Linked DNA regions of Homo sapiens. The protein of the gene in region 1 purifies or fractionates together with the protein of each later gene. This does not show direct contact. Each region holds a gene or a part of one and is shown on either strand. Other genes may lie near its edges.

Region 1 (2,755 bases):
AGCTGTGAGAAAAACGATCCTTTGTCTTTGTTAGATGATTCGAAGTTTCCTATAGAGGATACCCCATTGGTTCCAGTGAGTTTTATTTTCATTTTTACTTTTGTTAAAAAAAAAAAGATTGGTTTTTACTTTGAAGTTTGCGGCATGATGGTGGAAAGTGTAAATGCTAAAACACTGATGAGTAGAATTTGATGTTTATTAAGGTTTTTTTTTTTTTTTTTTTTTTTTTTTTTTTTACTTTCTGGTAAAATTCACCTAGTCTCAATCAAGGCCTATATATCATAAGGCTTTGTTATGATTAGCTTTGCAGAACCTTGTAGTTTATAGTGTTGTTGAGTACAATATTGACAATTCCTAAGACAGACTTCCATACAGAAGTGCCTGTCAATTTATATTTCCTCCTGGGTGGTCACATATTGAAACTCCAGCCCCTTAAGCAACCCTCTTGTTCTGAAGGCAGGTCTGGTAAGAATAGGTAAGTATCAGAAAGAAATCACCTCTGGAAACACAACCCAAATCCAAGAATACTCAATGCAGTTCTTCCCAAGGAGAAGGGCAATAGGCCTTTTTCAAACTACATTTTATATATTTTTCAATCTATACTTTGTGGTGATAGTTGCAGTTGAATATACTAAGTTTTTCATTAATATTGAATTAACAATTTATTTATAACAATGTATGCTTAGATTTTTCCAGCCCTATTTATAACTGATAACACTGCAGTATCCTTTTTGCATACAATTCTCTAATTTCACACTGCTATGTGGAAGATATAGCATTTTAATTTAACTTTCATTGCTCAATAGGGATCCTGAGGAGGCTATAGAGGGTGAAATTAAGAATATTTGGGATTCTGCTTTTGTCTTTTTTGTTAAATTTTCTAGTGACTAAGGCTGAAAGTAAATATGGGTTGGGAAGACAGATAAATTTGTACATGTTCCCGAGAACAGGAGCAAGAGATATATGACAAAGCTATTTCAGTGGCTCTTTAATGTATAAGGAGGCAAACACCTGAAACTCTGAAAACTCTGAAATTGAGAGGCAAAATAAACTTAGAGTCAAGAAAGAAATGCCATTTCTGCAGATCAGAATATAAACACCAACCACAGCTGTAAAAAAGAAAAGAATATATGCAACGAAGGGAAATTATATAAACAAAGGATCATTGGAGGTACTGATGAGTTCATTTAGTTCAATGAAAATAGTGACGTATTAGGTAGATCTCTTAATTTTATTACTAGTATTCTACTAAATGTGGTAGTATAAAGTCAAAAAGCATTCCGAAGTTTCTCAAGACCCTTATAATTCCATGATTTTTTTCAGGTCAGTCAACATTTGTTGAATGATAGGTCTGTGGAAGGAAAGCACACTCTTTAGGGTCATAGTTATTAACTATTAAACCATTGAAACTATTATTTTATATTTGTGTTAATGAGAGTCAAAATTATTGTGCATTCATCTCAAATAATTCTATTATTTTGAAAAATACAGGTTTTTTTTTTAAAAAAAACTGCTCTTGACATTGTAGCTATTGTGAGAAAATATTTTGATTATAATTATTTAAAAGCAATACAGGACACCCTGGATGATGGTAATGACTAGGGCAATGGTTGCATTCCAGTACTTAAGTATGAAATAAGGAATTATTACTTTCTGGGTGAATATAGGCTAGAATTGAAGACAAAAAAATTTGTTGCTTATCTTCAGTACTTCCAGCTTCATAGATAATTACTCTTAAAAGGAACAAGAATGACTGCCTCTGGATGGAGGAATTGGATAGCAATGGGCCGTGGGATAGGAGACCTATAAACCTTCATGCTATATTATTTTGTGCCTTTTTAAATTTTGAAGAAAAAATATTCATTTATTCAAGATATATGTAAATTCAGTAAATAAAAAGATATGATAGTTATGACCAAGTGGAAATATATTTCCTGATGTAAAAGGAATCACTGAGGAAAAAGATTAAAATATTTTGGCTGTCAACTCGTAGTTTAAAAAAAATTCCTTGAAAGAGGTAGAGAAAAGTCAAGTTGCAGTCCCACACAGAGCCTCTGGGCGCCGCCGTCGGCCAGTGCAGAGCAAGCGCTGACGCCGGGGATCCCTCAGCCTCTAGCCTGGGATTCCCTGCGCAGCCAACAACAGAAAAGAAAACCAGCTCCCACACAGAGGCTCCCGGCTGCGCAGACCTTGCCCAGCACACCAGATTGCCAGCTCCGAGACCCGGGACTCCTCCTGTCCTGGGCCGAATGCTCTTTTAGCGCGGTAGAGTGCACTTTCTCCAACTGGAAAAGCGGGGACCCAGCGAGAACCCGAGCGAACGATGGGAGGGAGCTGCGCGCAGAGGCGCCGGGCCGGCCCGCGGCAGGTACTATTTCCTTTGCTGCTGCCTTTGTTCTACCCCACGCTGTGTGAGCCGATCCGCTACTCGATTCCGGAGGAGCTGGCCAAGGGCTCGGTGGTGGGGAACCTCGCTAAGGATCTAGGGCTTAGTGTCCTGGATGTGTCGGCTCGCGAGCTGCGAGTGAGCGCGGAGAAGCTGCACTTCAGCGTAGACGCGCAGAGCGGGGACTTACTTGTGAAGGACCGAATAGACCGTGAGCAAATATGCAAAGAGAGAAGAAGATGTGAGTTGCAATTGGAAGCTGTGGTGGAAAATCCTTTAAATATTTTTCATGTCATTGTGGTGATTGAGGATGTTAATGACCACGCCCCTCAATTCCGGAAAGATGAAATAAACTTAGAAATCAGTGAA
Region 2 (3,826 bases), on another chromosome or scaffold:
AAATTAGCTGGGTGTGGTGGCGCACATCTGTAATCTCATCTACTCAGGAGGCTGAGGCAGGAGAATTGCTTGAACCTAGGAGGTAGAGGTTGCAGTGATCCGAGATTGCACCACTGCCCTCCAGTCTGGGCAACAGAGCAAGACTGTCTCAATCTCAAACAAACAAACAAAACACCCTCCCGCACAGCCAACTCTGCGTGAATTACTCTTTGTCTTGCAGTTCTCCTCTCTTGATGAATCAGCTCTGTCTAGGCAGCGGGCAAGGTGAACTCCTTGGGCGGTTACACACCATTCATCCCTCCATCCATTCATTATTTCCTTTAGCTGGTATTTTGTGAGCCTCTGCCCTGTGCCAGGCCTTGTGCTGGCAATGCTGGCGAAACAGCAGGGACCAAACCAGCACCAATCTGTGCCCTCAAGGAATTCCTAGTCCTGCGGGGGACAGACGTATCCCCCAACAGTGGGCAGAGCTGAGATGGGGGAGCCCACTGGGCACCTGACATGGCATGGGGTTCAGGGAGGGCTTCCTGGCAGAGGAGACATCTGAATTGGGACCTGAAGGGTGAGGACAACACCAGGACAAGGCGTAAGGAAAGCACTGGGGCAGAGGGAGGAGCACACACAAAGCCCACATGATTAAGGGAGTGCACTTTTTTTCCCCCTCTGTAAGTTTGGATGCTTAAAGTTTGCTTTCCAGGGCCCGGAATTCTTGGTTGTTCGGTGTTTGGTGGGGTCTTTGTTGGGGCTGCAGCTCTTAGAATGGGAAAGTATTAGATTTCACAGTTACCAAAGTGCTTTCCTGTTAGCCATCTCATTTGACCCCCACAACTGTTTTGTCCCCATGTCCGGAAAGAGGAATGACTTCCTCTGGTTTATAGAAGGGAAAATGGAGGTGTTGAGGGCAGCAGTTAATTGCTCAGGTCATACGCAGAGATTTGTGCCAGAGGCGAAACTTTGGACACTGAATTCCTAGACCCAGTTTGTTTCCTGTCTCTGCCTGTCTTCCAAACACTGTGACATTCTTAGCGTTGTGGTTTAGAAAATGGCTTCTGGAGCTGGGCGCAGTGGCTCATGCCTGTAATCCCAGCACTTTGGAAGGCGGAGGTGGGTGGATCATGAGGTCAGGAGTTCAAGACCAGCCTGGCCAACATGGTGAAACCCTGTCTCTACTCAAAATACAAAATTAGGCAGGTGTGGTGGCGCACACCTGTAGTCCCAGCTACTTGGGAGGCTGAGGCAGGAGAATTGCTTGAACCTGGGAGGCAGAGGTTGCAGTGAGCCAAGATCACACCACTGCACTCCAGCTTGGGCGACAGAGCGAGACTCTGTCTCAATAAATAAATAAATAAATAAATAAATAAATAAATAGGCTTCTGTGCTGGGCGCGGTGCCTCCCACCTATAATCCCAGCACTTTGGGAGGCCGAGGCAGGCAGATCACCTGAGGTCGGGAATTAGAGACCAGCCTCACCAACATGGAGAAACCCCGTCTCTACTAAAAATACAAAATTAGCCAGACGTGGTGGCGCATGCCTGTAATCCCAGCTACTCGGGAGGCTGAGGCAGGAGAATCGCTTGAACCCAGGAGGTGGAGGTTGCAGTGAGCCGAGATCACGCCATTGCACTCCAGCCTGGGCAACAAGAGTGAAACTCTGTCTCAAAAAAAAAAAAAAAAAGGCCGGGTGCAGTGGCTCGCGCCTGTAATCCCAACACTTTGGGAGGCCAAGGTGGGCAGATCACGAAGTCAAATTTCAAGACCTGCCTGACCAACATGGTGAAACCCCTTCTCTACTAAAAATACAAAAATTAGCTGGGCGTGGTGGCACGCGCCTGTAATCCCAGCTACTCGGGAGGCTGAGGCAGAAGAATCACTTGAACATGGGAGGCGGAGGTTGCAGTGAGCCGAGATCGTGCCACTACACTCCAGCCTGGGTGACAGAGCGAGACTCCATATCAAAAAAAAAAAAAGAAAAAAAAAAAGAAAGAAAATGGCTTCTGGAGTCAGACTGACATAGGTTTGAATCCCTACCCAGACTGGTGACTTTGGGTACGTCATTTAGCCCCTCTTAGCTTCAATTTCCGATTCTGTACATTGGGTATTATGTAATGGTCACATTAACTGGGCTTGTACTTTGTGCCACGGCTTGTCTGCAGCACCTTCCAGCCTCTGGCACTGGGTCCTCACCAGTTATGATGAGGTAGATACTATTATTATTATTATTATTATTTTGTGTATATACTATGTATGCATTATGCTGTAAATAATATTTATTGTGTTGTGGTGAGGATTAAGTAAATGGATATAAAATGTTAAGTCAGTGCCTGGCATAGGGTCATGGCTGTCACGTAGATGTTATAGATACAACAGGCAGGAAAAAGCAAAACATCTTGCCCTCAGGTACCTTACATTCTTGTGGAGGAAGCCAGACAATAAATGAAATAAATAGTTGGCTGGGCCCAGTGGCTCATGCCTGTAATCCCAGCACTTTGGGAGGCTGAGGCTGGTGCATCACTTGAGGTCAGGAGTTTGAGACCAGCCTGGGCAACATGGTGAAACCCCATCTCTACTAAAAATACAAAAATTAGCCAGGTGTGGTGGCAGGCACCTGTAATCCCAGTTACTTAGGAGGCTTAGGCAGGAGAATCACTTGAACCCAAGAGGCAGAGGTTGCAGTGAGCCGAGATTGCACCACTGCACTCCAGCCTGGGTGACAGAGTGAGATTCCATCTCAAAAAATAGTTAAAAGATGAAGTATATTAGATAGCAATAATTGCTCTAGGAAAAAAATCAGGGTTGTAGAACAAGGAGTATTTAAAGGAAGGCTATAAGCCTAGATAGGATTGTCAGGGAGAACTCACTGAAAATATGCCAAGGAGGGAGGGAACGAGCAGCATTGCCATCTGGGGGAAGAAACGTTCCAGCCCAGAGGATCCCGCATGCACACAGGACCTGAGGCATGAGCGTGCCTGGCACACAGGACAGAGGAAACTGATGACGGGAAAGGGGGACAGTTTGTATGGGGCCTGTGGGTCACTGCAAATGCCTTGGCTTTACTCTGAGTGGAACAGGACTTACTGGAGGGTTCTGTGCAGCAGAAGGACAATATCAGAGTTCTGTTTTATTTTATTTTATTTTATTTTTTGAGACAGAGTCGCACTCCGACACCCAGGCTGGAGTGCAATGGTGTGATCTTGGCTCACCACAACTTCCGCCTCCCGGGTTCAAGTGATTCTCCTGCCTCAGCCTCCCGAGTAGCTGGGATTACAGGCATGCGCCACCACGCCCGGCTAATTTTGTATTTTAAGTAGAGATGGGGTTTCTCCATGTTGATCAGGCTGGTCTCTAACTCCCAACGTCAGGAGATCTGCCCGCCTTGGCCTCCCAAAGTGCTGGGATTACAGGCATGAGCCACCACGCCTGGCCCGGGAGCAGAGTTTTTAAGGATAACTTGGTGGGTGAGGGGAAGCCAGTGAGCCAGGAGTGCTGATTGGTCAGAGATGAAATCATAGGAATTCAGAGATGTCTTGTGCTCAGTTAGTTCCTGGGTGGCGGTGGGGGAGGGGGAGGGCGGGCACAAGATCAGATGAGCCAATTTTTTGATCTGGGTGGGGCCAGCTGATCCATCAAGTGCAGAGTCTGCAGAATATCTCAAGCACTGATCTTAGGAGCAGTTTAGGGAGGGTCAGAATCTTGTATCCTCCAGCTGCATGACTCCTAAACCATAATTTCTAATCTTGTGGCTAATGTTAGTCCTACAAAGGCAATCTAGTCACCAGGCAAGAAGGAGGTCTGCTTTGGGAAAGGGCTGTTACCATGTTTGTTTAAA

Evidence for each region.
Region 2: the proteins of PCDHGB6 (region 1) and OPA3 purify together in Homo sapiens (affinity purification with mass spectrometry; one large-scale study listed by BioGRID and IntAct). This does not show direct contact.

Annotation. Positions count from the first base shown.
Region 1 is NC_000005.10:141,415,537-141,418,291, forward strand, and holds part of PCDHGB6 (protocadherin gamma-B6 isoform 1 precursor), read left to right. Parts: coding exon of another isoform or gene 1-192; exon of another isoform or gene 193-1,915; intron 1,916-2,140; exon of another isoform or gene 2,141-2,323; coding exon of another isoform or gene 2,324-2,755. Other genes in the region: PCDHGA10 (protocadherin gamma-A10 isoform 1 precursor), read left to right, coding at 1-75; PCDHGB7 (protocadherin gamma-B7 isoform 1 precursor), read left to right, coding at 2,324-2,755. UniProt on the Homo sapiens protein: Potential calcium-dependent cell-adhesion protein. May be involved in the establishment and maintenance of specific neuronal connections in the brain.
Region 2 is NC_000019.10:45,578,143-45,581,968, reverse strand, and holds part of OPA3 (optic atrophy 3 protein), read left to right. Parts: intron 1-3,826. UniProt on the Homo sapiens protein: May play some role in mitochondrial processes.